7 linked regions of the Homo sapiens genome follow. Changing the gene in region 4 together with the main gene of any one other region gives a genetic interaction. Each region holds a gene or a part of one and is shown on either strand. Other genes may lie near its edges. The genes, in order: RPP38, PPWD1, CMAS, GTF2E1, RRM1, EIF3H and YTHDC1.

The links.
Region 1: changes in GTF2E1 (region 4) and RPP38 together harm fitness less than expected from each alone (positive genetic interaction), as found in Homo sapiens cells (one large-scale study listed by BioGRID).
Region 2: changes in GTF2E1 (region 4) and PPWD1 together harm fitness less than expected from each alone (positive genetic interaction), as found in Homo sapiens cells (one large-scale study listed by BioGRID).
Region 3: changes in GTF2E1 (region 4) and CMAS together harm fitness more than expected from each alone (negative genetic interaction), as found in Homo sapiens cells (one large-scale study listed by BioGRID).
Region 5: changes in GTF2E1 (region 4) and RRM1 together harm fitness less than expected from each alone (positive genetic interaction), as found in Homo sapiens cells (one large-scale study listed by BioGRID).
Region 6: changes in GTF2E1 (region 4) and EIF3H together harm fitness more than expected from each alone (negative genetic interaction), as found in Homo sapiens cells (one large-scale study listed by BioGRID).
Region 7: changes in GTF2E1 (region 4) and YTHDC1 together harm fitness less than expected from each alone (positive genetic interaction), as found in Homo sapiens cells (one large-scale study listed by BioGRID).

The regions. Positions count from the first base shown.
Region 1 is NC_000010.11:15,102,554-15,105,919, reverse strand, and holds the end of RPP38 (ribonuclease P protein subunit p38), read right to left. Parts: intron 2,616-3,366; 5' UTR 2,606-2,615; coding exon 1,754-2,605; 3' UTR 1,663-1,753; downstream 1-1,662. UniProt on the Homo sapiens protein: Component of ribonuclease P, a ribonucleoprotein complex that generates mature tRNA molecules by cleaving their 5'-ends. Also a component of the MRP ribonuclease complex, which cleaves pre-rRNA sequences.
Region 2 is NC_000005.10:65,583,054-65,587,717, reverse strand, and holds the end of PPWD1 (peptidylprolyl isomerase domain and WD repeat-containing protein 1), read right to left. Parts: coding exon 4,499-4,664; intron 2,705-4,498; coding exon 2,623-2,704; intron 1,720-2,622; coding exon 1,537-1,719; intron 466-1,536; coding exon 322-465; 3' UTR 169-321; downstream 1-168. UniProt on the Homo sapiens protein: PPIase that catalyzes the cis-trans isomerization of proline imidic peptide bonds in oligopeptides and may therefore assist protein folding. May be involved in pre-mRNA splicing.
Region 3 is NC_000012.12:22,062,894-22,067,008, reverse strand, and holds the end of CMAS (N-acylneuraminate cytidylyltransferase), read right to left. Parts: intron 3,237-4,115; exon of another isoform or gene 3,082-3,236; intron 1,889-3,081; coding exon 1,698-1,888; 3' UTR 1,341-1,697; downstream 1-1,340. UniProt on the Homo sapiens protein: Catalyzes the activation of N-acetylneuraminic acid (NeuNAc) to cytidine 5'-monophosphate N-acetylneuraminic acid (CMP-NeuNAc), a substrate required for the addition of sialic acid.
Region 4 is NC_000003.12:120,777,170-120,781,833, reverse strand, and holds part of GTF2E1 (general transcription factor IIE subunit 1), read right to left. Parts: intron 792-4,664; coding exon 364-791; 3' UTR 1-363.
Region 5 is NC_000011.10:4,121,855-4,126,518, forward strand, and holds part of RRM1 (ribonucleoside-diphosphate reductase large subunit), read left to right. Parts: intron 1-286; coding exon 287-366; intron 367-1,328; coding exon 1,329-1,530; intron 1,531-4,664. UniProt on the Homo sapiens protein: Provides the precursors necessary for DNA synthesis. Catalyzes the biosynthesis of deoxyribonucleotides from the corresponding ribonucleotides.
Region 6 is NC_000008.11:116,657,969-116,662,632, forward strand, and holds part of EIF3H (eukaryotic translation initiation factor 3 subunit H), read right to left. Parts: intron 1,013-4,664; coding exon 845-1,012; intron 1-844.
Region 7 is NC_000004.12:68,315,064-68,319,727, forward strand, and holds part of YTHDC1 (YTH domain-containing protein 1), read right to left. Parts: intron 3,800-4,664; coding exon 3,763-3,799; intron 3,691-3,762; coding exon of another isoform or gene 3,667-3,690; coding exon 3,627-3,666; intron 3,519-3,626; coding exon 3,456-3,518; intron 1,386-3,455; coding exon 1,251-1,385; intron 1-1,250. UniProt on the Homo sapiens protein: Regulator of alternative splicing that specifically recognizes and binds N6-methyladenosine (m6A)-containing RNAs.

The sequences.
Region 1 (3,366 bases), on a different chromosome or scaffold from region 4:
TTTACATAATTTGTTATCAAATTATTAACCACTTTTAAATAGAATAATAACTACATTTGCCTCCATAATTGAAGCAGATTACTAATTAACATTTTCGAGAATTAAACTGCTTGCTTATGAAGTAGCTATTAAAACTAAATTGAAATGCAATGGATAGTTTCTTGTAGATTTAAAACTGCATTGTACTGTACTTTGTCTATAATGAAAATGTTCTATTCAATAAGGTATCTTTTTTTCTTCTTTTTGGCCAAGATGGCACTAAGTAAAATTTAAATCGAGAGATGGCATAATCCATGAGTCAGCCAGACTTTCAGCTGGAAAAATCTTTAGTAAATACCTTCCTTCTAAATTACAGAAAGTAACTTTTCCATACACACTGTAAACAGCAGACACTCTAACAGAGCATCGGTTATGCTCCATCTCCTAACCTGAAGGACTCTTGTCACACACCCACCTCTGAGAACCCAAGCTCCTCAGTTTTTTTAATCTTTTGGCCACATTTCATCCAATTACCATCATACCTTTTATACGTTAGATTTCCAAGGAGGTAAGTGAATCACGTAATGGGGGTGAACTGTACCCAGTCAAAATAACCTTATCTGACTTTTTCTATATTTTTGATATTTTTTCTCTAAATATTAAGTCTTTCTCCCAAGCTCATGTCTATTCCTTCCTAAAAGTCAAATTGACATGAAGTGAAAAATGATGTGTTGCTTCTGAAGACAATGGATTGCTTGGCATTTGGGATCTTTCCTTTAAAACTGATAATGCTTCCCCAATTCAGTTCCATCTACCTGACTGACTAGAACATTTACTGTGGTACATTTTCCAGGTTTGATAGGAAAATGCTAAGCGTTGTATGACACAGATATTCTTGCTCACAGGCACTCTACCAGCCTTTGAAAAAGTCAATTTAGGCTGGACGCGGCTGCTCACGTCTGTCATCTCAGCACTTTGGGAGGACAAGGCAGGTGGATCACGAGGTCAGTTCGAGACCAGCCTGACCAACATGGTGAAACCCCATCTCTACTAAAAATACAAAAAAATGAGCTGGGTGTGGTGGTGGGCACCTGCAATCCCAGCTACTCAGGCGGCTGAGACAGGAGAATCGTTGAATCTGGGTGGTGGAGGGTGCAGTGAGCCGAGATTGCGCCGCTGCACTCCTGCCTTGGCGACAGAACGAAACTCTGTCTCAAAAAAAAAAAAAAAAAGGCCAGGCACGGTGGCTCGCAGCTGTAATCCTAGCACTTTGGGAGGCTGACGTGGGCAAATCACGAGGTCAAGAGACGGAAACCATCCTGGCCAACATGGTAAAACCCCGTGTCTACTAAAAATACAAAACTTAGCTAGGCATGGTGGTGCGCACCTGTAGTCCCAGATACTTGGGAAGCTGAGGCAGGAGAATTGCTTGAACCCGTGAGGAGGAGGTTGCAGTGAGCTGAGACCGCACCATTGCACTCCAGCCTGGACAACAAGAGTGAAACTGTCTCAAAAAAAAAAAAAAGAAAAAGAAAAAGTCAATTTACACACGCATGAACACTAGTTTCAATAAATGTCTGTTTGGCTATTCCTAATTTTGAATATTTCCTGCACTTAGTATATCTGTGCCATAGTTACAAAGAGTCTTACACATTTGAATATTACCAAACAGGACCCTATGAATCTATGTAAGTATAACTCATTTTATTAGTTTCAAGGCTTCTTTACAAGGTGTCCTTTCACAAACTGTATGACATGACAAGTTTATGCAAGATTACTTTGGAGTAGCTTTTTTACTTTTGGGTGGTTTCCTTATCTTATTAGGGTTTGGAATCAGTTTCTTTATTTTAAGGGGTTGTAATGTTACAGAAGCCTGCCGACCGTCAGCAAGCTTTCTCTTAGGTTTTGACAGATCTTCAAATGAAGTGTCCAAAAGCTCTCTGTCTTGGCTTTCCAGAGGTTCAGTCTCTAAATTTTCCCCAGAATCTTCAATTCTGTCTTGAAGCCATGGTACACTTAAACTGGGGACTCTGGGGATGATGGCTCTTACTTCGTCCACAAAGTCAGTGGTGTTCTTTTTGAACGCCAAGGCTAGAACACATTTTAAGCCAATGACGGGGGCGATTCTCTCACTGAGCCGGGGGACCTGACAGGCAGGGACACTTCTGCTTAGGCTTAACTGAATCAAGTGTGAGGTGATCATGGCAGGCTTGACTGATTTACACACCAGAACTAACAGCAGTTCCCTCCTTTCCAGGGCTCTGGTAACTTCGTTAACGCCAATGGCAAGCTGCTTCCTGACGTGTGCAGGCGTCCACCCTGACACTTGCTGCTTAGCATCTGTTTTCTTCTCCTTCAGATTCTCACTAATATCAACAGCAATGCTGCATTTCTCTCTGCTTTCTTTTTTCAGAAAAGGTGTTTTGTTCTTTTTCTTCTTATCTTCAATCTTCTGAAGTCCAATAGCTTTAAGCCTGTCCTCAAGCGTCTGTAGGATGAAGTGCATATCCTCGCTCTCCAGAGCGCTCCAGCGGATGATGTATGGGTTGTTCAACGACGTCTTCACAACCAGAGGTCTCGTCTTACGGAGAGATCCCCGCCCCGGTGCTTGAGGAGCTGCAGCCATTTTGAAAATCCTTCCAAGAAGCAAAATGACAACAGAAAAAATTCATGTTAGCGACAACTGCATGACTTAAGAATATCTTGACTGTACTCTCTGATTCTTATTTATTTATGTATTTATTTTTTGAGACAGAATTTCACTCTTGTTGCCCAGGCTGGAGTGCAGTGGCACAATCTCAGCTCACTGCAACCTCCACCTCCTGGGTTCAAGCGATTCTCCTGCCTCAGCCTCCCGAGTAGCTGGGATTACAGGCGCCCGCCACCAAGCCCAGCTAATGTTTCTATTTTTTTTTAGTAGAGACAGGGTTTCACCATGTTGCCCAGGCTGGTCTCAAACTCCTGACCTCAGGTGATCCACCCACCTCGGCCTCCCAAAGTGCTGGGATTACAGGCATGAGCCACTGCGCCCGGCCTGTACTCTGATTCTGGATAAGCTAGAGCAAGCCTGATTATATAAGTCCAATTAGGTGAGCATACGCTTGTCTTCCTTTTAAAGATTAAGTAATTTTATTTTTCCCCATTTTTCTTACCCGATTTTGAATGCTCTACGAAGGCTCTTTAAAATACTCAGGACTATGGGTGAGTAGTGTTTAATTTTCCCCATTTTTTTATATGACTTTGTCTTTATTCCTATACAAGCAATATGTGAAAGTTTTAATTATTGCAATCATAGTACAATTCCATTTGTCTATTTCATTTATTAAAAATATTCTGTTTCTACTTGTTCATAATTAACCTTCTAGTGACTGTATGGTATTAATCTTC
Region 2 (4,664 bases), on a different chromosome or scaffold from region 4:
AGTAGAAAGAAAACCATGGGAAAGGGGGTGGAGGAGAGTACTGTAATTATTTAATATTTAATTTGAGGCTGATTAGAAATTACCTATAATGAGTGCTATTTGCCTGAGTTTAGTCCATTTCAATTTATCACCTCCCAGGATTAGAAATATTGCGAGAAAAGTCAAAGGTAATTTTTAAAAAATAGCCTTTAATAAAAAATACAAAAATACTGTATCTTTGAAACATGATCTGTATATTCAGCAAGTCCTAAGCTTCCTAATGTAAAATAATCTGTTTAATATTGTATTTTTATTTGCAAGTACATTAAAACAAATCTTATTTTACTTGACAGTAATATTTATGATGCTGACATCCTCATAGGGCTTATCTGTTTTGGGATTGACTTTGACGTTGGAGATCCTCTGTACAACTTCCATTCCTTTAGTCACTCGTCCAAATACTGTATGCTTATTATCAAGCCAAGGCTGTGTTGGAGGACAAATGGAAAATCTTGGTAAACCCCAATTTCTTTAAATTATATCCTCTGGTTGAGCAAATTAAAGAGAATTTAAGTTTACGCTCCCCTTTAGCATATATTTAAAAAGAAGTACAATAATTTCTCAGCAATAAAAATGTAGCAGCTTTTAAAAGTTATTTCCAGTGTGTTAAAAAAAATAGAAGCATAGTATAATGTTTAATTAAATATCTGCATCTTTCAGACCAAAGGGAACTGGAAGATCTTCCCTAAAGGTAAGTTACTTCACATGGCTTACAGAATTGTGGCTAAGGCTTTAAAAGGTCTCTGGAGGACTCTTACCTGAACAGTTTATTCAGAGGCAGTTTGAAATAGTTTATGCAGCACATACTTTGGCATTAGACAGGTGGGAGTTCAAATGCTAGCTTGGCTACTTGACCTTTTGGCAAGTTAATCATGTCTCACTGTTTCTTCATCTATTATTGAAAACTGGGGATACTGATAGTAGAAGTACTGTGAATACTACATAAAACTATGTGCCTGGCAGATGGTAGTTACATTTTTCCCTTCTTCATCACTTAGTGCTTAATTCCAAAACAAAAACTAGGTAATTTTTATAATTTTGTGTTATGGCATAGCAATAGAGCTAGGTTACCTTATACTGTATTTCATCAAATCTAATGTATTCTGATTTCAGAGATACTAAAATGTGGGGGAAATTGTCTCAAAATTGTGAATTCATATACTCTAATCTTTGTATTCTAAAGACAAGGAAATAGGCTCACAGAAGTGAAATAATTTATTTTAGGTTACATCATCAGTAGAGGCAGAGTTGAGATTGAAACTCAAGTATCTTGAATCGTAGTCCATTGTATTTCTTACTACAGTGGCAGTATTGTTTTACCAATTCTAAACTGATTAGTCACATAATTTTATATTCTTGATCATTTTCATATTTGTATTCTGCTAGATGATATAAATAATGCAGAAAATACAGAATAATGCAGCTCTTCTACTGAGTTCACTCTCTTACATCATAACCTATCAATCTGTAGTTTATAAACAATGATACTGTACTTACCGTTGGTACTACCGTTATGAAAAACTGGGATCCATTAGTATTTGATCCCGCGTTAGCCATGCTGAGTGTGTATGGCCTGTCATGTCGTAATGTTGAATGAAATTCATCTTCAAATTCTCCTCCCCATATGCTTTCTCCTCCCATACCAGTACCTGTTGGATCTCCAGTCTGAATCATAAAGCCCTTAACAGAAAGTACACAAAAACATTACATTGTCCTTTTCGATATATGTACGCTTTGAAGTTTTATTTCTGCCAAGAGTGCTTTGTATTCAGTGTAATATTAACTGTCACTATAAAGTGATTTGATTAAACCCTTAACACTTAAATTTGGATGATGTATTTCCATTGCCCAACCACCACCTTGATTGAAACATAAATGCAAAGGTCGTCTTCTCATTTATAGACATGTTCTGTCTTTCTCAATAACCCAAATAAAGCCAGTTAATACTATCAATTTTAGGATCTGTATGTTATGTTTTATATAATTGCCCTCCTCTTCTCCCTCTCCCTTTCCCCAAATACTCTGGATTTCCTGGAAAGCCTTTTCGCTAATTCCTTTAGGACCCTGAGATCTGACTTTTCATCCTGCCGTTTCTGACCTGCCAGAAACCAAGCACTGTATCAGTGCCCCATCCACTTTATGGAAAGCTGCTCAACAAAATCCAGGGGCTGAGTTCTCTCTCCTCCTCTGGTATATTACAGGTTCTCACAGATCAGATGGCACTGTGGCTCCTCTATGATTGAAAAATCATATCTTCTAGATCTAGACCCTATCTAGCCACGACAAAGAGGTTACCTAGGTTACTGATGTAATCTCAGCATGACCCTTTATTCATTATCTTACCCTTTACTTTAGCTGCTGACAAAATATTGCTTCAGTGTTTCTAATCATGCCACTATTCCTGTTGATTCTAGATGTTGATATTTATGACCATCCACTCCTCCTTTGGCTTCCATAGTGTATTTTTCCTGTTCCTTTCCACTAAACTGATTAAGTGTGAGAGAAGAAGATTCCTTGCGCTTAAATCTCTTGCTATGTAATAATACAGTATTTCTTATATGACATGAAATTTATGTAACTTACCTTAATTATACGGTGAAATGTATGCCCATTATAATAACCATTTCTGCTGTGAACACAGAAGTTTTCCACTGTCTTAGGGCACCTATTAAGACATATGTTACAAATATGAAACCTATTCAGAGCATCTTAAAACAGTTTTCTTTGCAGTTCTGCTTCCTAATGATGTTTCCTTTCCATGTCTTCTGAATGTTTCAGAAGGACAGTTGTTTTTTTTTTTCATAATCTCTAATCTCAGGACAAGCACGGAGGGTCATGTAAGTAGTATATTCTTATTGTTCAACTTAGTTATCTTTAGAACATGACTGCTTAACTAATATTTGAGTTTGACAGTATTAAAATTTCAAGGTCATTTAGCAGTCAAAAAAAATACAGCCATAGCACCTTAAAAATATGTTTTTTTCTTAAGAGACAAGGTCTCACTATATTGCCTAGGCTGATCTTGACTTTCTGGACTCAAGACATCCTCCTGCCTCAGCCTCCTAAAGTGCTGAGATTACAGGCCTGAGCCACTGTACCTGGCCCAATATCTTAAGTTAGTTTACTCCATATAGTATTATAGGTCTGCATGTAGTAGTATAGGTTAAGTTCCTGGGAAAGGTCATTTTCTTACAAAAGCATTGTTATGCTACAGCGACATACTCTTGGCCAAAACCTTAATCATAGAAATGACATCTAAATTTATTCAACTTTAAATGACAATCACACTCAGAGTACGAAGCTTTCTCAATAATATTAACTGAAAATTATGCAATTATTTCATACGGTTCATTACCATGTAATACTTCTAAGAGCTGGAAATGGACGAACCAAGAGAATCTTGTACCCAAGTACATCAGCAAACAAGGCCGAAGAGTACATGGGTTTTGAGCACTTAAAGTGAGACTGTCCAAGAGTCTAGAGCTGCCTAGTTATTTGTTGAGTACCAAGATATGGTATAAAACGTTCATATTCAAAATGTTAATAAATAAGAACTTTTAAGTAAAAGTGTTGTAAAAGATGTCATTTTTTGGGTCAAGAATGGCCAGAGATACTCTACTGTATTTGACATTGTATGTTAATTTTACAGTCTTTTAAACTGTCCAGAAAACTGTTCACCTTTTTTTCAATTGAAGCCCTTACGGTTTTGTTGTAATTTGTTTTTGTAGAAACAGGGTCTCACTCTGTTGCCCAGGTTGGAGTGCAGTGGTTTGACCATAGCTAACTGCAGCCTCAAACTCCTGAGCTCAAGACATCTTTTGACCTCAGCCTCTAGCATAGCCAGGAATACAGGTGCGTGCCACCATGCCCAGCTAATAAAAAAAAATTTTTTTTAAGAGATAGAGTCTTGCCGTGTTGCTCGGGCTAGTCTCAAACTGCTGGCCTCCACTGATCTTCCTGTCTTAACCTCCTGAATAGCTGGGATTACAAGTGCGTGCCACTGCACCCAGCTTGTAGTTCACTTTTAAAACACAGAGCTACTGAAACTATAAAGAGATAGTAGGTATCTAGCAACTGTTGGTAAGGAAACATAATTATCTTTCTCTTAAGGATTTGCTTTGAGAGGAAAGCAAAGCAATCCACAAAACCTAGAGTTCAGATGTGCTGTTAACAGTAACAGTGATACACATTTGTGTATCACTTTACAGTTTACACTCAGCACTTTCATAGCCAATACATTTTGTCCTCGTAATGAACCTATAAAGTATATATGCATAAAAATTTCCCATTTTCTACCGTAACACTTATCAGAAAGCTCAGGAATAGATGTTTTTTATCAAACGTTTCTTCAAAATTCCTTAAGTCAAAGTAACGGGAATTTTAAGTTGCATGGTTTCTTCAGATATACACATTTACATTCTTAATTACATAAGCCAATAAAAACAGTTGTTATACATACTCAACAGGAAAAAGTTTGGTGTGAATGTCTCCCATGCTGGTGTGGATAATGGCACTGTCCGAAACTCGTTTAGGTCCTTCAGCTTGAGTAGCTGCCATGACTTCTTCTTTAGAAGGTTTCTCATTAAAAACATCTCGATCAGAATCTGCACTTTTCGTATCTTCTG
Region 3 (4,115 bases), on a different chromosome or scaffold from region 4:
TGGAGCTTGCAGTGAGCCAAGATTGCATCACTGCACTCCAGCCTGGGCGACAGAGCGAGACTCCATCTCAAAACAAACAAACAAACAAAAAAACAGAATTCATGATTCATAGAAGGAGGTCAAAATATCAACATTAATGAGAGTTTGGAAGTTGATTCCAACCCTCATGGATGACTTTGAGGGGCTCAAGATTTCAGTGGAGGAAGTAACTGTAGATATGGTATAAATAGTAAGAGAATGAAGTTAGATGTGGAGCCTGAAGATGTAACTGAATCACTGCAATCTCATGATAAACTTGAATGGATGAGGAGTTGCTTCTTACAGATAAGCAAAAAATGTGGTTTCATGAGATAGAATCTACTCTTGGTAAAGATGCTATGAACACGAAGTGACAACCAATAATTTAGAAAATTACATAAATGTAGCTGATAAAGCAGTGGCTTGAGAGAACTGACTTCAATTTTGAAAGATGTTCAATTGTGAGTAAAATGCTATCAAACAGCATCACACACTAGAGAGAAATCTTTCATGAGTCAATTGATGTGGTAAACTTCATTGTTGTCTTATTTTAAGGAACTGTCACAGCCACCTCAACCTTCAGCAACCACCACTGTTCAAGGCAACATCCTTCAGCAGCAGAAAGATTGACTCGCTGTAGGCTCAGGTAATTGTTAGCATTTTTAAGCAATATTTTAAAATTAAGGTATATACACTGTTTATCTGGGCATAATGCTACTGCACACTTAATAGACTACAGTTTACTTTAAACATAACATTTTATGTACCTGGCATCCAAAAAATTCCTATGACTCGCTTTATTGCAACGGTCTGGAACCAAACCCGTAATATCTCTAAGATATTCCTGTATGCAAAATTACCATTATCTCTCAGGGGTAACTGCAAATAATTTGCTTCCTCCAAATAAATACATAATCTTCATAATATATAAATTTATTTGGATATTTGTATTTGTGTATACTGCTGATCCTTGAACAACATGGGTTTGAATTGTGTGGTCCACTTTTATGTGAATTTTTTTAACCATGTGCAGATCAAAAATACATGTGAATCATGCAGTATATGGAGGGCCCACTTTTTGTATATGTGGGTTCAACAGTGTTGACTGTGGTACTTGAGTATGCACAGATTTTGGTATATGTGGGTGGTCCTGGAACCAACCCCCACATAGACCATATGCTGTTACGTATACATATGTGAAGTACAATCAGATGCTCTACCCCGGCATCGAGTGGCTTGTTTCTCACTAAGATTGGTTAATGTTTAAAGGAAAGAAAGAAAATGCATGGTAAATTTCTTCTAGAGCAACAAGGCAGTTTTCATCAAGTTTGAGAAATGTAGTTTTATTAATAGAAGGGCATGTCTTACCATACACACTGTCCCCAGATAAATAAAATCCCAACATCTTTGAAAGCACACAAACACACAGTTTTACAGGGTACAATACAAAGTGAACTTTGATGATGTTCTTACTTGCATTTACTAAAAATCTGAGAAAGACTGTAATCAGTCTCTAAATAATTATCTTGCGTAAAGAGAAAAGTAGAGCACAATATATATATATCACAAACCAAATCACACTCTCTGTAACATTACAACATGGAATTTACTTAATCAAAAATAAAAGCAAACTGGCTGAAGAAGGCTGTATCATTTTTTTCTCAATATTACGCTAATTTCTATTTTTGGCATGAATTATTAACCTTTTCCATTAGTAGGCAAATGTGCTCTGCAAATTCTCGGATGGCACCACGGCCACCATTACATTTGCAAATGTATCCAACAGCCTTCTGGGCAGTAGAACAGGCATCAGCAGGAGCGCCACTTAGGCCCACTCTCTTCAAGCACTCTTCATCAGACACTTCATTTCCTATCAAGTAAAATAAATACTGAGCAAACATTTAAAGAGACAAAGAATATTCTAGCTAAATAATGCAGACAGCAACCAACAGGTAACTCTGGCAACTTCAGTAAGACCTAGGGGCACTGCATATAAGAATACTAAAGATTAGATGGAACAAAAATATTTTACAGTATAATTGAGGTCCAGGGTTTTCCCTAAGCAATCAAAAATAAACTCTTATGAGCTAGAGAAGAAGAATGGAGCATAATTGCTACCTGCCATGCATATTACAAATGTTAGAAATTTTATATATGAATTCTAAGTAAGTTATTTAAATTTTTCATTAAGCAAAATTTCAAACATATGCGAGAACCCCAATTTTATATTGAAAAATTATCAGAATTTAAAATCACTTAGTAATATTGTTTTCTATGCACTGCCCCCTAGTTTATTTGGGGAAAGGGAGAAGAAGGAATTCCCAGACATAATATTTTATCCAAAAACTCTTCAATATTTATCTCTGATAAATATAATTTTTTATCTGACAGAATATCATTAAACCCACAAAATCAGTAATAGTTCCTTAATATCCTCTAATAACCTAGTATATGTTGAGATACCCCCAGCTGTCTCAAAATTGTCCTTTTATAGCTGACTTATTTGAATCAGGAATGAAATAAGGTTAACATATGGTCTTTTGTTTATATATATATAATCTCTTAAATCTCTTTTAATCTGTAATGGTTCTGATTGGTATGCCATTTATTAATAGTTGCTGAAAAATTACCATTTTTAAAGAATAAAAATAGATACTAAATCATACTGACATAACGATATCCTTTTCCTCCCTCTCTGTTAACCCCTTTTTTGGAATAGGATGCATTTCAGAAGCTCCCAGTATCTTTAATTCACCATTCTGAGTAAAACTATTACTATACTTTAGACCACATACAATAGTACAATCTTGGTTGAAGAGAGTTTCTTTTACATTTGTTCTATGCTTATCTACTGAAATTTTCTCATTTATTATTAAATGTGTTGAAATTTGAATCGTTTTCACTAAAATAAAAAAAGTTAGTATTTGCATAATCCAGCCTTTAAGCTCTATTTACTAAATTTTACTTATAAAAGTATTGATTTTTTTAAGAAATATATTTTTATACACTTATGTCACCCATATAAAACATTGGTGAGTGAGTTATTATTTTTTTTTTTTGTAGACATGGGGCCTCACTATGTTTCACAGGCTGGTCTAAAACTCCTGAGCTCCAGGGATCTGCCTGCCTCCGCTTCCCAAAGTGGTGGGATTGTAGGCATGAGCCATCATGCCTGGCCTGCTGTGAGTTTTAAATAAAAATGTAAATGCTCTTCTCCATTTTCTTACCTCTCCTTTTAAAGTGTGTGTGTGTGTGTTTTTTTTTTAATGTCATATAAGTAATACGTATTCGTGGTAGAAATATTTTTTTAAAAAATAGAAGCAAAAAAGTCACAATCATCCTAATTATCACTATTTGTAGATAATCACTACATTTTGACACATATAATTCTAGAGTTTTACCTATATAAATGATACACTTATTACTATCTGTAGGCACTATGTTAAGCATTTTATATTATCTTTGTTTTTCTTTCTAATGGCTTTATAAAATTTGGTTTGTGTTTATATTCTAAGTAGAAAACTAAGGTATACAGAAGCTTGCTTAACATCCCAAAGAAAGATAATAAGTATAGTTGGAATTTGTTATACATTCCACTAAAATTTTCTTCTAATAAAAATTGGATCTGTCTTTAACAAACATTCTGCAGCATTTATGTCCATTAAATCTTCATGTGTGGTTTAAGGGTTATTCCTGAAGTCTCTAGATCACATGCTCCCAAAGTTTTTCCTGTGCTTCTTATTTTGAGGCTCATATTACCCTTGTAAATACTGCTTTCATACATGATTTATAGTTATTATGCATCTTAATAACTTATCAATTTTAAAATGTTGACATCATCAGACTGTAAGCTCTGCAAGCAGAAAGCCTACAGTTCCCACAACCAGTTCCATGCTGCGTATCATCATAGGTACCTGGTAAGTAAGTGTATTGCTTAATATCCAAGTGAAAAACATTGTTATATTTGATCATGCAAATAAATACAGGTCACAGCACTGTTTGTAATGGTTGCATAGTAATCCTTTTTAGGGATATTCTATTTTTCACAGGACATTTAAGTGGGTTCTTTTAACTTCACTATTGGCCCATTTGTCTCA
Region 4 (4,664 bases):
TGAGGCAGGAGAATCGCTTGAACCCAGGAGGCAGAGGTTGCAGTGAGCCGAGATCACGCCATTGCACTCCAGCCTGGGGTACAAGAGTGAGACTTCATCTCCAAAAAAAAAAAAAAAAGAAAAGAAAATACAGTAAAATATTAATACTGTAGTGACAGCAAGGAAGGGTAGGATTCTCAGCACCCTACCTTGCTGGGAAAGTTTCTGGCATAAAAGTCAAACTCTCTACCATCAATCTTTGCACAAGGATGGACAGTTGCTTACATCAAGAGGGGCAGAAAGCCACTTAAATACTTTTCTTCAAAGATGAGACATTCCTTTTTGAACTGAGCATTAGAGAAAGGAGAAAGAATTAGGGAAAGCTCACTCAAAGAGGTCCTCAAACATGCGTTGTCCCATTGCTATATATGCTTCCTTTTCTTCTGGTGTCATCTGGGCCACTAGCTCTGGCCGTTGGCTCACTTCACTGTAGGAGAACGGACGGCCAGCCACCATGACAATGGGGTCATCTGCTACTTCTTCAAACTCGTCATCTTCCTCTTCATCCTCTTCTCGTTTATGCACAGCCACAGCTGCCGGACGGGGTGGAGAATCATCATCTGACTCACTGGTCTCGCTTTCTGAGTCACTGCCATTGGCAGCGGTCACTGGAGCAGCTGCCCCCACTGAACCAGCCATGGCAGAGGAAGTCTTTTTCTCGTGAATGAGCAGTGCTCGCATGACCTCTTCGTTGTCATCAGGCCCAGCATGGCCTTCCTCACGCTCCTGAAATGCGTCCATATCTATGCCCCCTGGGGAGTAAAACTCAGAAAGTCAATATCCTTAAATATAAATGGCATTTCTTTATAGCATATAGACAATATTTTAACATATATTTAAATAATACGATAAAATAACAGACTTCACTGGTTCCATTTTTGAGCTGCTATCCATAAAATATTCAAAATATTTCTTACAAACTGGAGCTTAAGTAGCATAATGGTCAAGTACATTGGCTTTAAGAGTATTATAGCATAGATTTGAATCCTGGTTCTTCTACACACAAGCATCTTGGGCAAGTTATTTAATCTCTAAACTTCAATACCTTTTTCTGTAAAATGAGGTGATAAAAGCATCTACTTTCTAAGGTTCTGAATAAAAACATATAAGATAATGTCTATGAAGAATCGACTAGAGTAGCTGGCATAACAGAAAATCAAAACATGGCTCTTTATCTCACTCAAGGTAAAAGCCAAAAGCTTTGCAATGGCCTATAGGGTCCCACATCATCTGGAATCCTTCCTGATCATCTACCTCTTACTTCTTTCCCCTGCTCATTCTTGTCTAGCCACAGTAGCCTCCATGGTATTCCTTGTACATATCAGACACACTCCTACCTCAGGGCCTTTGCATTACCTGTTCCCTCTGCCTGGAATATTTTTCCTTTAGGTACTCACACAGCTAACTCCCTTCCATCTTTCATGTCTTTATTCAAATGTTACCTTTTAAATGTATCCTATCCCTACATTCCCAATGCTCTATTTTTCCCCCATAGCACTTATTTCCTAACATAATGAATAACTTACATCTATTGTCTTTGTCACCCCCTTTCCAAGGATGTAGGTTCTACCACAACAGATATTTATCTTGTTTATTCATGGATATATCCCATTTACCTAAATAGTACCTGCCACTCTGTTAGGCACTGAATAAACATCTGACAAATGAGTGAATAAATGTGAGTTTTATTTTCATGAAGCAAACTAAGCATACTTAAAACTCTTTATAAAAAAAGAATCTAATTTTAGGAATGAAGCTTCTCTCACCACACACCTCCTATCATTTTGTGTACATATCTTACCTGATATACTGCAGATGAAATATTTAAGAAAACCATCTGCATTCTGCATTCTGATACTACTACCAAACATACTGCCATTTAAAATACATAAAAAGATTAAAAGTATTGTTTGGAACCTGACTCCCTGATTCAAATCCTAACACTATTTAGCTGTATGATTCTGGCCAAGTTATTTCATCTCTCCGCTTCAATTTTCTCAAGTACAGAAAGGGGGAAAATAGTATTTACTTCACTAGATTACTGTGGGGATTAAGTGAATGTCTGTGAAGTGTCTAGAATGGGCCTGGCACTTAGAATAGTGTTATCTATCATCATCGTCATCAAGAGAAGACTCAGAAATGGTCAATTCTGACTATGGATAAAGTGAAAGCATCTTCTCATTAACACATTAAAATGAATTAGCTAAATCCCTGGACATTTTAGAAGGCACAGAACTCCTAAAATGAGATACTGAGCAGATAAGAGAGAGAAAGGGAAACAGAAGCAGACAAGTTAAAAGTTTAGGTCAGAGAAAAGAGGCTTTTGATAACATGACTGTCAAAATGAGAGTTAAAATCAAACTTAACTACTTCAAAATATTGTCAAAGGCTGAACCTCCTCCTTAGAGCTTACTGCCAATGCAGCACTACAACAGAAAGAAAAGAAGGTAAGGAATGCATGCAAGCCTTTAAGACAATAATTGCTTCTAAAAGAATGTTCCAAATAGTTTAATAATATCAACACAGTATTTTGATTAATGTTTAAGTATTAAATTAGGGAAAAAGAAAATTAGTTTTGTAAACTAAATTAAGTCACACGTAACAGATTTCTGACAAGGGTCTTGAGAGGTTTGGAGAAAAAAGAATTATTCTGTTACAGATGAAGACAGAAAACAAAAAACAAGGATAAATGAGCAAATTTCTGGATGGTAAAGTAGAAACAGTGGTTCTAGGAACAGCCTTTTTCAACAGAGTTATAAATTACAAAGAAGATGTATACTGGGAAACTATATTCACGGAATTGATGCTAAGCAATTGTGGGTACTGAAAGGCCAAGTTGCAGCAAAAAAATATAGGAAGAGCTGAAGGTTGTATACGTGGGCAGAAAAGTAGCAGATCTATTTCTATTTCAGCAAGTGCAAGAAAATCAGCCTGCAGAAAAATAATCTAAAATATACTGAAAGATATGATCCAAGCTATTGGATTCAAGGCACAGAAGAACCTAAAAAGTACCTCTACGTGTTTCTAGAAGTTTTTGGTCTTAACATGCTTCCAGAACCAAAGCAACAAACAAAATCTCAAGTAAAAACCAGAAAGATACTGGAAATAAAACTCAAATCAATGGTGAATCCATGCATGAACAACATGTATCATTCTGGTCACTATGTCTCAAGTAAAGTATATTACAATTAGAGATGGTCCAGAAAAAGACAAAAATAAACAAAAACTGTAGGAGGTGGCAGCAGTGGAAAAGAGAACTGTTTAAGGAAAACAGAATCAAAAGGAATTAGAACTTTCTTCAGTATAGTAATGAGAACATGATTGAAGTCGATACAATTGTGAAAGATATCAACATGACTTGAAGTTTGAGGAAAATCAAGTGTTAAGACCCACTTCATACATTCACTGGATAGAGTCTGCTCTACTATCAAGAAACTTAGGATAAATTCAGACATGACAACATACTATCCTATTTTATGCAGAAATAAATATTTACAAAACTTAAGTAGACCAGATAACTTATTTAAGGCCCATATGATTCATATTCTATCATTTTAGGAACTGTAAACTAGAATGTTAAACTTATGAGCTTAATATATAATGTTGGTTAATAATAATTTTATTTTATTCAGTTTTCTTCCTAAGTTCAAAGAAAAGAAGGCTGCTTTAAGAACAGGCAAGAAGCCAAGTTGGGGAAAACAAATTTATTAAGTAGTAGTATAGCCTAACTACTGTATAATCTAAAACAACTTCAATCTAAATAACACAACAGGCTGGGCACAGTGGCTCATGCCTGTAATCCCAGCACTTTGGGAGGCCGAGGCAGGCAGATCACTTGAGGTCAGGAGTTTGAGACCAGCCTGGACAACATGGCAAAACCCCGTCTCTACTAAAAATACAAAAATTAGCTGGCCATGGTGGCTTGCGCCCAATTCCAGCTACTCAGGAGGCTGAGGCAAGAGAATCACTTGAACACGGAAAGCAGAGGTTTCAGTGAGCCAAGATCGCACCACTGTACTCCAACCTAGGCAACAGAGCGAGACTCCGTCAAAAAAACTAACATGGCAGGCTAATCAGTGAGGAAGAAGGAGGGTAAAGTATGGTTGCCTTGGAAAACCTTTTCTTATTAAAATTAATATATCAAAGAGAATCACAGTAGAGGTATTAGCTGCTTTACCATCACTACCAAACTCCACGTTACCTTCACAATTTCTAGTATATACATATACTAAATGCTAATTATGAAGGGAAAAGAGGCTAGGAGAAACGCCAAAAAACAAGTGGTTTTCAGCTACTGATTATTCTTTGGCACTAACATATCACCAAACTCACGTGATATGTTAGTAATGATATATTAACTTGGGAGTAGCGGCACATTGATTGTTACACTGATAAAATTCAGCAAGAAATAGAGACACCCTTCCTCTCTACTTTCCAGCTTGAGTCATCGTCATCCATTTTTGCCTCCCATTTTCTACATACTCCTAAACCATCATCACTCAAAGTCTTGAATGCAGTAACTTAGACTAAAACTTAGAAAGTAAAATCTTGCAGTTCTCTAACTTCCGAAGATTAGTATGCAATTCTTAACCCTTTATGCCTCAGAAATTTCCAAAATCCTCTAG
Region 5 (4,664 bases), on a different chromosome or scaffold from region 4:
CATATGTGTGTGATGCCACAGAAGGCATTCTGAACAAGTTAAGAGATGCCGTGCTTGTCTTCTTATATTTCTATTCTCTAAAGTAGATGCTTTGTGACCTAAATGCTTAAAAGGTCATGTATAAACAGGCAGACCTAGATGTTTGGGCCTGAACCTGAAAATGATTATTTCTACAGCAAATTTCCAAGAGAGCTTGTAAAAGTCACCTTATGCTTGCAGTGTTTCTAATGGATTATGGTTGGCTATTTGAAGTTTCTTATGAGTGATTTTGTCCTTTCCTTTTTAGGACTGGTCTTTGATGTGTCCAAATGAGTGTCCTGGTCTGGATGAGGTTTGGGGAGAGGAATTTGAGAAACTATATGCAAGGTATGGGAAAAATATGAAAGAAAACAATAATGTTTTAATCATGGTTTCTCTTATTTCAGGGGTCCAAATATCAAAAGTACTTGTCAAGAATCTTTTGAAGCATCTAAGAGAAAAAGTGACTAATAATTTTGGTCAGATTTGCTTCCTGACTCTTCACCAAAATTGAGTTGTGTCTTCTTCTTTCTTAAAACTTTGGAATGTATAAATAGGTTCTTGGGATTTTTAATTGATCCTTTTAAAATTTAAGATGACTAGTAGGGTTATTATTTTGCTCTGTCATATAGTACTTTTGATAAGCTATGCTTTATGTTGCATAAAGGAATCATGAGTGACTAGGACACATATGTCAGTAGTTTATTAAAATTAAATAGGTCAGGTGCAGTGGCTCACATCTGTAGTCTCAGCACTTTGGGAAGATGAGGCAGGTGGATCATTTGAGGTCAGGAGTTCAAGACCAGCCTGGCCAACATGGTGAAACCCTGTCTCTAGTAAAAATACAAAAATTAGCTGGGCGTGGTGGTGCACACCTGTAGTCCCAGCTACTTGGGAGGCTGAGGTAGGAGAATTGCTTGAACCTGGGAGGTGGAGGTTGCAGTGAGCTGAGATTGTGCCACTGCACTCCAGCCTGGGTGATAGAACGAAACTCCGTCTCAAAAAAAAAAAAAGGAAAAAAATTTAGCACAGTCTTAAGAGATTTGGCTTCCTTAGTTTTTACTCCTTTTTATTATGAAAGATATTATTGGTTTAGTGGGATTGCGATCATCTGAAGGCACCTAAAACTGCCTCATTTTCCCCTATGGCTTTAGCTAGAGTAAAATAAATATCATATTCCTTTTTTTCTTTAGCAAAACTTAGAGAAAATTTAAGAGTTTTCATAACTTTATATTTTAATGTCTTCAAGTTGTCTACAATAAAGTTTTTTTAGGGAATATATATTAAATAATATTATCTGTGCCTTTCAGTTATGAGAAACAAGGTCGTGTCCGCAAAGTTGTAAAAGCTCAGCAGCTTTGGTATGCCATCATTGAGTCTCAGACGGAAACAGGCACCCCGTATATGCTCTACAAAGATTCCTGTAATCGAAAGAGCAACCAGCAGAACCTGGGAACCATCAAATGCAGCAACCTGTGCACAGAAATAGTGGAGTACACCAGCAAAGATGAGGTAGGTAGAAAAAATTCTTCCTAGAGTACTAAGAAGAGAACCTTAGGCAGTTATTATTTGTGAATTCCTCACTTGATTTCACTTGAGATAAGTGAAGGGAGTTTGCATAGTTGTAAGCAGAAGAACACTGTTAAAGGCAGAGAGCAAAGGAAGGAAAGGGTATGATCTGTGCCTATAAATGTTTTTTAGTCTAAGCCGTGTGGGAAAGACACAGTTTTTTCTTATACACACATCACTGTAATAACATTTACTCAAGAAAAATAGAAATATACAGTTATGTTAGTTTAGGACACACACAAAAATGTGTTAGGATGTACATTCAATTTAAACTATGTAAGCCTTGAGCCTGGAAAGTGGAGGCTGCAGTGGGCTGAGATTGTGCCACTGTACTCCATCCTGGGCGACAAAGTGAGACCCTGTCTCAAAACAAACAAACAAAAAACCAAAAACAACAACAACAAAAGTATGTAAGCTTATAAAGAGAGTCCTTTCAGTGAATGGTGAGATCAAATTCTAATCTCAAGTCTGTAAAGAGACTTCACAGAAGAATCAAGGCTAGAAATGGGACATGGATTTGGTGTTTTAAAAAAAAGTTTGAGAGAGGAGCTTTCCATTTGGAAAGAGTGGTCTGTATGATACACCAGAGACAGGGCTGGGTTTTATGCAGTGTGGCAAGTAAGTCTGTTTTGATGGTGCAAGTAGATTAATTATTGGAATATGGAGAGATGGCTATGGCTGGGGGAAGGGAGATAGAAGGTAGAAGCTGACACGTCACGGATAGGTAGCCCTTGTAGGTTTCTGAGAGGAAAATAGCATCAAAATGTTAAGATGAAAAGGAAGGTTCTTGCTTCTGGTTACAGAGTGTCTTGCTGTGAGAAGGGATTAGAGGTTAGCCTAGGGAGATTGTTGTACTAGTTGGATGACAGGCTGCTTTGATCTTGGATGTAAACTATGGAAACGAGGAAGGAGTAGATCCTCAATTCTAGGACCTTAAAAAAAAAGACAAATGAAAAGTCAGGAAGTAAATGGAAAGTGAGTTAAATATACTGCTAAGGTTACAGTTTAATTCAAAATTTATTGTGCAGTAGCTATATGTAAAACACAATGTTAAGTGCTCTGAGAATATAAATAAATATGCTGCCCTCTGGAAACTTCTAATTTAGTTGGAAGACATCGACATATATTGAGGTAACTATTATGCAAGACAGATTATATTATAGAGGCTAGAGTGACATTTTTAAAATAAAAATCAGATAATGTCATTTGTCTGCACAAAACTACTCTTTGGCTTGCTAACCCATGCAGAATTCCTTTTTTTTCGGGGGGCGTCAAGATTTCACTCTGTTGCCCAAGCTGGGCTGTGGCTCACTGCAACCTCAACAGAGTTCTTTCTTTTTGCAAATTGAGCTATAATTCACTCTTTTTAAAATGTACAATTCAGTGTTTTTTTTCTTTTCTTTTCTTTTCTTTTTTTTAGTATATCTGCAAGTCTGTGCAACCATTACCACTATCTAATTGTAGTATTTATTTATTTTATTTTTTTTTTTTTGAGACAGAGTCTTGCTCTGTCACCAGGCTGGAGTGTAGTGGCTCGATCTCGGCTCACTGCAACCTCCGCCTCCTGGATTCAAGCGATTCTCCTGCCTCAGCCTCCCGAGTAGCTGGGACTACAGGCGCGTGCCACCACACCCAGCTAATTTTTGTATTTTTAGTAGGGACGAGGTTTCACTATGTTGGCCAGGATGGTCTCAATCTCTTGACCTCGTGATCCGCCCACCTCAGCCTCCCAAAGTGTTGGGATTACAGGCGTGAGCCACCGTGACCGGCCTGTAGTACATTTTTATCACTGTAGATAATGAAACCCTTTATCCATTAGCAGTCACTCCCTGTTCCCTTCTTCCCTCAGCCCTTGACAACCACTAATATATTTTCTGTCTCTAGATTTGTGGACATTGTGGACATTCCATAGGAATGGAGTCATATAATATGTGGCCTTTTGTGTCAGGCTTCTTTCACTTAACATGTTCTTTTATTCATGTTGTAGCATGTATCAGTACTTCATTCCTTTCCATCCAGAGTTCTTACAGTGCCCTACAAGGTCCTACACAACTGGATAACCCACCTCATCTGCGGTTACTTTCCCCTTTGTTCACTTTGCTCCAACCCTATTAATTTTCTTGCTTTTTCTCAAACATGTCAACCATGCTCCTACCTCAGGATTTTTGCTCCTTCTTCCCTCTTGAATGTTAAAATGCACCCCCTCTTCCCATAGCCACATGATTTGCTTTCTAACCTGTTCAGTTCTTTGTTCATATGTAACATTTTCAATGAGGTCCTTCTTGACAATTCTGTTTAAAAATTATACCCCCTTCATCTTTATCCCCAGTACTCTCTGTCTTCTTTTCCTGCCTATTTTTCTTCCTGGCATTTATTAGACTTCTGTGATTCAAGCTATATTTAAAAAAATGGGTATTTGGCAACATGTGTAGAATGGAGTAGATGTGAAGGGCATCAAGAGTTCAACTGGGAAACTTTCAGTAGTCCATGTGAGAGAAGTTAAGACTTTGGCTTGGGATAGTCATAATCAAAATGGAAAAGAAAGTGTATTCATTCAACATTATCAAGACTTACTGTGTGCCAGATGTGTTGCTAGTGCTAAACATATAAATATAAATAAGATGATCCTTGTGTGAAGAAGCTCACTGCCTCGTGTAGTGGAGAAATCACTGGAAGAGCTTTTTCAGAAATCACAAATTGAGATCCATTGTTGCTAAGGGCTTGTCAGAATATCAGTGAAGGTGAGGTGGACGTGTGTGTTTTGAAGAACTCTGCAGTGATGGAAATGTTCTGTATCTGATGGCTATTGAGCACTTGAAATATGACTAGTGCAACTGAGAAACTCAAATTTTATTTCATTTTAAATAGATATATGTAGCCAGTGGCTACCATATTGCAGGGCACTCATCTACTGAATAATGAGATAGGTATATGTAAAAAGCTAATTATAACATAGTGTGATATATGTCTGGTAATAGAGCTGTGTACTGTGGAACATAGGGTTCTCTCTCTCTCTTACCTATTTTGCTGATGCATGTTATAACTAACACATATGACTAGGTATTGAAGAAATAGAA
Region 6 (4,664 bases), on a different chromosome or scaffold from region 4:
ATGTTGTCTGAAACTTAACACAGTGAAACTTTTAGCAATAGGTGATAAAATGAAAACCAAAATAGATTGAAACAAGTGGAAAATTCATCAAGGTCTGATGATGCAATGTTTCCAGCCAATATAAGTATACTTTAACAACTTGTTCTTTACTGTAATCCAATTGTTAACATACTGAAACAATTTTGGGGCAGCTCATAAGATTGATCGTATTCATTAGTATTTTTTCTGACAGATACTCAGGACGTTACATTTACTTCTCAGCTGGAAACTATATGCAAGTCTGCCAGATATGGCAAACTGTGAGTGTTTGGGGAGGGGGAAGGCTATAAAGCTGTTAAATTGCCTACAGTTCTGATACAGCACAGAACATCTGGTCTGGAGAGCTTGAGGAAACACCATTAAATAGGCCGAAAAGAAAAAAATCTTTGTGCTAAGAAACAGTCCAGGTTTTGTACGCTGTTGTCAGAGGTATAAAAAAAACTTGGCACACCGTATTATGATTGGTCAGTCACGTACAGAGCCAGACACTCTAGCAATCGGGGTTTGTTAGACATCTGGTCTAGTTCCACCAGCCCCTTCAATGAGGGAGGGGAGATGGAGGAATAGAAATGAAGCAGCTACTCCAGCATTCCAAAATGTACACATCAGGGCTCTGATAGCAAGAAAAATAAACAGAAAGAAGGAAACCCTGTCTAGACTGAGCTGCTGCTGAGGCTGCTGCAGAAACAGGGTTGGTATTTACTTGAGAAGGCCTGCCAGACTGCTCTTAGAGGCAAAAAGGACAGAAAGCAAAAATAGTAGTAATAATATTAAGGGAAAAAAGAATAATAAACCTCCTACTAACCATAAATGAGAACGACAGATTCTTCAATGGCATGCTGGTAACTAAACTGAGAGTCCAGGAGTGCCCGGGTAACGAATGAGCCATAGTATGTGGACTGATACCAGCCCACGTGAAGATGATCAATGTTTACATGGCGAAGGCTCCGCATCATTTCCATCTGATATTGGACTGGATGATGGGGAAGAGGAAATTAAAAGAAAAAACTTTTTAATGATGTTACCAACATCAAAAACAAGCCGTTTTGGAAACAAATGTCTACATAACAATTTATTAGCAATAGGGAACAGGATTCCAGATTTAAAATTCATTCAGTTCACATATAAAGCAAAACAAAATTAGGCTTTTAAATCATCAGGGGTTTCCTTTTATTCTTTAATGAAAAAATATTTTGTAGAAAATGTATTACACACAATATTAATACCTTGTTCTAACCAAAGAATTATTAAATGTGGCGTCTAACTCCCCTTTTTGAAACTCTCAAAATAGTAAATGTTTAAGAAAAATTTGTGTAATTACTAAATTGGTTGGTTGTAAGAAGTTTCATTTGAATTAATAAAAGAGGAAGAGTTATCAATCTCTTCTTCAACACAGCTTTTAGAGCTGAGAAACTAAAACCATTAGGAAAACTAAGGAGAAACAACTACCAACCACACTGCTTATATATGAAGAGGATACAGGCTGTAGCTGATTCAAAATGTAAGAGTACATTTTTGCCTTCATCTGGTGCCCCCTGCTGCATATGCTAAATTTTTTAAAGAATTATTTTTTCTTGTCTGTGTGTTCCTTTAAGTAACAGATACTATGTTTTCCTTAGAATAAAGTTATATTTTAATGACCATGTATAGAATGAAAAGGTTTAGTGACTTTTACTTTTGTCAAATTAATGACTACAAAGTATAGTAATGACTATAATGTATACTATATTAAAGCAGTATTACCAGAAAAACAGATTAAAACTAGCAATATAATAAACGACATTTTAAAAAGCAATATAGCACAATAATGCACAGCAAATATATAATACAGGAGAAAACTTTATAGTCAACATAATAGCCATGCTATTTCTATTATTATTTATTATTATTATTATTGACACAGGGTTTCACTCCCATTGCCCAGGCTGGAGTACAATGGCCTGATCTTGGCTCACTGCAACCTCTGCCTCCCGGGCTCAAGTGATTCTTTTGATTTAGCCTCCCAAGTAGCTGGGACTACAGGTGTGAACCACCGCACCCGGCTAATTTTTGTATTGTTTTTTTGTAGAGATGGGGTTTCACCATGTTGCCCAGCCTGGTCTCGTACTCCTAGGATCAAAGAATCCACCCACCTCGGCCTCCCAAAGTGTTGGGATTGCAGGCATGAGCCACTGCATCCAGCCCCAAACTATTTCTATTATAATGAATACATGACCATGCTGAGTAAACGTATTTGCTTAACTTGAAACCTGTTTCATTTTCAAAATTCTTACTCAGGTTTTAGCAAAAGAAAAGTTATATATCTGTCATTCTTTTGGTTATACCACTATGGTTTTACAAAGCCTACAAGACTCAGGATCATAAAGTATAAAAGAGTGTTCCTCAGATGGACACAGTCTGATTTTTCATTACTTGTAGGAGAAGAAGTTATAAATCTGCTTATTCCAAGGAAGGTTACAGTTCTCATGCTAAAAGATGGCAGCCAACTCATCAACTACACAAGAATTGCGTGTTTTTTGAGATTTTTTTTTTGCTATGTAGAAAAGCTAAACAAACAAACAAAAACAACCAAAGTTATTTTGCCACTATCTGAAGAGACTTTCTTAAGCCTACGGCAATGTTGCAACAGAGCTGGAAACTGCACTACTGTAAAGATGTACAGTTTAAGTGCCTGTTTTGAAAGTGGGCTCATTTATTCATAAAAAGGAAAAAAAGTGTTAATATAGAGGAAGTTAGGCTACTAAGGGTATGGGGGAGAAGGTGATACCAGACACCAGACACCAGATACCAGACACCAGACACTTTGTATACCAAACCAGTGTTTCTGTATATTTATGAATAAAATACAAAATCAAAGTCATATAACCTATGCTATACTCTAAACCACCATTAAAAACATCACTACCTTAGAAACCTATTTTATACACAATATGACAGCCGAAAAAGCAGTATGAAATATGATAATCTTACACCAATTATTTTTTATCTTCATATTTTATTTCTCTAGCATGTAAGAGGAACCTCACCTCCCCCCAGCTAGTTTAACAGATTCACATCAACCACATAAATTTGGCAAGTGGGATAGAATCACTGCTATGATCTCCTTCTGTTTCGAAATTCCATAATTCTTTTAAATCAAAGTAAAATCACTGATTTGGCTAATAAATTTTAATCAAATTTAATTTATGAGTGAAAAGTCCCAGTATTATAAGTAAAATGGGAGCTGAAACTGAATTTGCTATTTATTTTAAAGGGAAAGGGAAGAGGAGAGATTAAGCAACTGACAGAACGAGTAAGATTTTAAAAAACATTATTTTTAAATCAAAACTTATGCAACGTATTAGTATAAAATTTAGCTACAATATAAGAAGAGGTTGGAGTCTGCCAACTTATAATAGCAGAAAAGAAAGACTTGGAATCTAGAGGTCGAGGTTCTCATGCCAGCTCTGAGATTTCCCCTGTGGGGATCTTGCTGTACAGTTAATAATTCTTCTTTGATATTTAATTTTCCCATCTCCAAAGAGATCTGAGAACCCAATCCCAGTCAAAACGCTATTATTCCACATTGTTCACTGGACATACTAATTATAAATAAAGAATTTTCTATTAGCTAAAGGGGCCTCCAGCATGCATTATGATTTAAAATAAAAATACATTCCTCTGAAAAATATTCTGTAATCTTGCTAAGTCTGTCCTCAAATAGCCTGAATACAAGAGATTCTCTAACAGCATTTCAGGATACACAAGGTAAAAAACTCCAAGATCCATAGCAAACTTCCAAATTTCTTCTTTATCCAGAGTCTTACCTATTCTACAGCACCTCTGATAAGGGTAAGAATGAAAATGAAACGTTCCTCTAAACTAGGGAAGAAAGTCAAGAAAGCCTATAGCCGTGTGGAGATACCACTCCTCCAACATATTTCTGGGGACTGAGGAGTAAAGAGAGATCAGCTTCTTTATTAGGGGAAATGAGGGGAGCATTTCCATTTCCTCTTCCATGGTTTAGAATATGACATAAAAGATTTTGCAAGATTTTGGACACATTTGTAAGTCATAAGAGTTTTCATATCACCTAAATATCAAAATAAAGAGGCTAAAGAGCAATGATTGGTCAATTAAGAAAATCACTTTAAAAATATACAATGCACTAGAATTTCACTAATAAACAATGTATGTGTTGGGCCTAATCTATGTAAAGTGAAGGAGATTCTCTATCTTGGTTTGGACTTACCACCCCAATTTTAAAATTAAAAACAAAACTTTTTTTTTAAGTGCCCTCTCAGAGGCATCATATAAAGAAAGGACCTAAACAAACTGCAAGTGAGTCTTAAAAGGTGGGGCTGGGGATGCTAGAGCTCCGAAATGAACCACAGTGCACAGAGGCCCAGTTCTCACCATGACTGCTCCTATGAAGCGCCAACAAATGCAGTGTTTGAAAAGAGCTCACTTTGATGTAATAAGGTAAAAAAATAATAAGTAATACTGTTTCTGTTTATTATAAGCCAAGGAACAAGAGACACAACTCACAAACAGCCACATGAACTGCGTTATCTCTGTAGACTTTCAGGTCTGTGTCCCCATTCTTTGAATCCCATCTCCCTTCACCCACAGTTTATCCTCCCCTT
Region 7 (4,664 bases), on a different chromosome or scaffold from region 4:
GGATATAGTTGAGGAAAACAAAAAAATCTCAGACTTCCTATTTTAAAAGCCATGTGATCAGTTATGGGAATTTTTAAGACACCACAACCCATCTAGTCAACTAAGATTTCATTATAGATAGACTGTATATTTCTTTCTTGTGTGCTTAACTGAAAATAAACTACTAATTTAAAGTTTGTGAATTAGTTAACTAGTACTCTCAAATTATTTTACAGAATGTTAGAAGTCATGATAAGATTTGATTTAGAGAAAATTACTATCTTTATAAGGAAATTACTGACAACACAAAAAAATGTCTCAAAGATAGGCTAGAAAGCTGCTCTGATTCTCACAAATAGGCCCACTCTTCATCTTAAGTGGGAAAATAAAAAGATGTTTATTTGGCCCCATACAGACTCATCAACCTAAGTAGGGAGTGGAAAAAAATTCTAACTTGCATATCCTACTTAGTTTAACAACAAAACTACCTTTCTAAGGCTATCAAACTTATATGCATATGAATTATGCTTCCAACACTTGCCAGAAGACAATTCTGCTTTATAAATAAAAGTACTATTGGGGGGGGTGGGGAAGCATTTAATAAACTCAGCCCCACTAGTTAAAAACCCAGAAAACTCAAACTAAAACTAGAGTCTTTTTTTCACTGGTCCTGTTTTGAAGCCATCAAAAAAAGCTTTCACATCAATCTTATCAAATAATTAACAGAATCAATGAATAAAGGACATGTCTGCTACATATCATAACATCTGGTTATTCTTTGCTAACATCACAATAACCAGAGGTAAAACAATTTATCAGTTACTAGCTTTAACATTTGGTAGAAATAAAAACAAATGACTAAATGAGATTACAGCTTATCAGCTAACTTAATATACACGATCTATCCTAGAAAAATTGAGTAAGAATACACAAAAAGTTCAGAAATATCTATTAACAATATTAATTACATAGCATAATTAAGATCTCAATATGGAAAGAACATAGCCTAGGTACTACCTAAAAGGAGTTCTATTTGTAGGCGTTTGCCTTAAGCAGTTTGTGATTTGATCAGTAAAAGAAATATATTCTATCTATATAATCCAAAGGGGCATAATCAGGCATTTTTAATAAAAACAAACAATTATTCCAAAACAGTCTGCAGTAAGAATATGCAATGGTCCGTCAATCATCATACTCTGGTCTCCCCATATTTAAGTTACCTACAGAATTCTAAGTAGTTCCCTCACACCTTTGCCTCCTTGTGCACTTACTACTCGTTTATCTCTGTATCTTGCTTCATGTGGTACTGGATGATGTCCTGAGTAAGGGGGATGAGCTTGAGGAGGTGGAGCATGGTGCTGATAGTAAGGATGGTGTGGAGGTTGTTCCATTCCTGGGTAAGGGGGCTAAAAAAGGAAAACCATTTACATTAAGAATCTACCAACACCCTTGTAAACAAGCGATTCTTAGAACCCTTCATCCAAAACACCAATCCCAAACAAGTGAATCTGTACTAGACATTTACTTTGATGGCATTAAGGTGTTTCAAAATATGCTTTTTGTCGAAAATTACACATCTTCTAAGATTTAACATGTTTATGCTTTTCTACTCCTATCATATAAATAACAATGGAAATAGCAAACACTTACATGGTGCTTACTGTGAGCCAGGCATTGTTCTAAGCACTTTACTAGTCTCATTTAATTCTCACAGCAACCTTATGAGATAGATACTATTGTTCCCAGTTTACAAAAGGGAAAACTGAAGCAACAAGGAGTTAAGTAACCTGCTTATAGTCACACTACTGTTAAAGTGGTGAAGCAGGCATACGGCATCAGGCATCCTAGTTCTGCAGTTGGTAAACTGGTTAACCACTTTGTATGTATCTGTTCTTAGAAACATCAACAGGCCTGGTGTGGTGGCTCACGCCCATATCCCAGTGCTTTGGGAGGCTGAGGGAAAAGAATCCCTTAAGCCAGGAGTTGGAGACCAGCTTGGGTAACAGAGTGAGACCTTGTCTCTATAAAAAAATTAGCCAGGCACAGTGGCATGTGCCTGTAGTCCCACCTACTCAGGAAGCTGAGGCAGCAGGACCACTTGTGCCCAGGAGTTCAAGGCTGCACAGAGCTATCATCACACCACTGCATTCCAGCCTGGGAGACCGAATGAGACCCTGTCTCTCAAAAAAAAAGTCCAGGAGCAAATTAACTTTTAAATGCCATTTAAAAAATGAATAAAGGGTAAATTAAAGATTACTTTCATAGTTACTATCAAGATCATATATTATTAAATTTTTAAAATTTCCTAGAATCTAAAGGGGAAAAGTCTCATAATCATCTGCATATAATAGTATAAAACTGTATACCTTAAAAGTGAAACAAAAGTCAGATGAAGAGGCCATATAACATATTGCATTTAAAAAAAGACATAAATTAAAATGTAAGAAAACAGTAGAAGCTACTTCAACTTCCAGGTTTTTATTTCTTGAAAATTAATGCTTCAGCTATCTTCAATATCTTAAAATATACTCTAAGACAATTCAGTTTTCTTAAAGGAAATAATTAAAAAGCAGGAATAATCAGGGTTTAATTAATCTTATTTTACACAGAAAATTTAGTGAGTATTAGATCAGGCACTATGCTAAACTTAACATGTACTTTGTAAATTTATCTTGACAATGAAAATGACACTACTACATTAAATTTTAAGCTATACCAGGACAGTCATGATGTCAATTTCATTCACCATGATATAATCAGAACAAGCACAGTGCCTTGCACAGAGTAAGTACTAAATATTATATTTGATAAGACAAAGCATCAGTGAATGCCCATGGAATTTTACAGATGAGGAAAACTAAGAGTTGTATTAAGAAATTAACCCAAAGTCACAGAGTTGGGAAGAAAAAGAAATATATCTGAACCCAAGCGGACTTTGCACTACTAATTACTACCATAATACACTATTACAGTTCTCAAGCCTGTACTATTAACACAAATGAGCTTTTAGTCTTTAGTTTGAAAGACAGCATACAATTATTTATCATCAAAAATCTGTATTTTAAGTCTTTTTGAGATGGAGTCTCCCTCTGTTGCCCAGGCTGGAGTGCAGTGGCGCAATCTCGGCTCACTGTAACCTCTGCCTCCTGGGTTGAAGCAATTCTCCTGCCTCAGCCTCCCCGAGTAGCTGGGAGTACAGGCACACGCCACCACACCCAGCTAATGTTTTTTGTATTTTTAGTAGAGACAAGGTTTCAGTTTCACCGTGTTGGCCAGGCTGGTCTCGAACTCTTCACCTCAGGTGATCTAGCCGCCTCAGCCTCCCAAAGTGCTGGGACTGCAGGTGTGAGCCACGGCGCCTGGCCAGTTTAAGTCTCTTTAATGAGTAACTGTAACAATCATATTCCGAGTAAGCACCTGAAATACTAGAACTGCAAATTAAGTTATGTAACTTATAAAAATAGAATAATACAAACCATTCCTTGCCAAGGTGGTGGTGGTCCCATGTTATGAAATTCCCTCACATAATCATTGTAGGACTAAAATAAAAGATGATAATGTCAATATAATTAAAAATTATCACAGAACTGCAAAATAAATCAGAGCCTGATTTTATCCACATTAAATAGATAAAATGAAATGCTTACCCCATTTAAAAACACATCTCGGCGAACTCCTGAAAATCGTCTGTTGGGAATAAGATTTGTGAAACTAAATTCAGGTAATTCATAAACTAGTTCCAAGAATGTAATTCAAAACTAGGCAAGAGTGAACCCGACTTACCTGTCCACTTCCTGGTATCGTGGATCCTTTAAATACCCTGTTCAAACATCAAGCATTTTAGTAAATCAAATTTATATTTTTCTTTTATGGCATTATAATTAAACCTTCCTTACCACTCGTTTCAATTCTTTCCATGAAATATGTACTTTAAGTGATGCTACTACTGTATTATCCCATTTTCAAATTTTCTTCTCAGATTACATGATAATCTAGGAAATAACTAATGATATCATAGAATTGTAAACTGCTAGAGAAGCTTTCAGATAGGTATCTTCTATGTTCACACTCCAAATCTTGCTAATCAGAAAATTTCTTCCTTCTGCTTCACAGGGAAGGTAAGGGCAGAGGAACTATCTTGAGCACACTATGACAGGACTTCCTTAAAACAAATGTTTACTTTCCACCTTGGGTATATGTAGGTCTTACCAAGAAAACCACAGATAAGCTTTTTAAAATGTAAACTTAAGGGGGAGGGGGAAAAAATTGCAAAAGTTGCAAAAATGAAGATGTATACACTGAAAATGAAAAATCGATGGTGGTTAGAAAAATATTCTTTCCCCTGCTTCTTTTAATAAGAACCCAACAAATTAAAATGTAAAAACATTTGAGTAGTCATGTTACTGGGGAAAAACTATTTTCACTTTCTACAACAGGACAACCTATTTTGGAAGAATGAGGCTAATCAAGCCACTTGTTACATAATAGTGCTATAATGATCACTAACATCAATCTCCTAACTGCCTAAGTTTCACAAGTGTATCACTGACTCTCTTCAAATACATGATATCCCTTCTTGAATATAGTTTGCTCTCTTAAATTTCAGTAAGGGATAGATTAATTGAAAAGCTACATTTAGATTACATACCGAGTATTTCCCATTCCTCTCCAAAGACATAAAGATT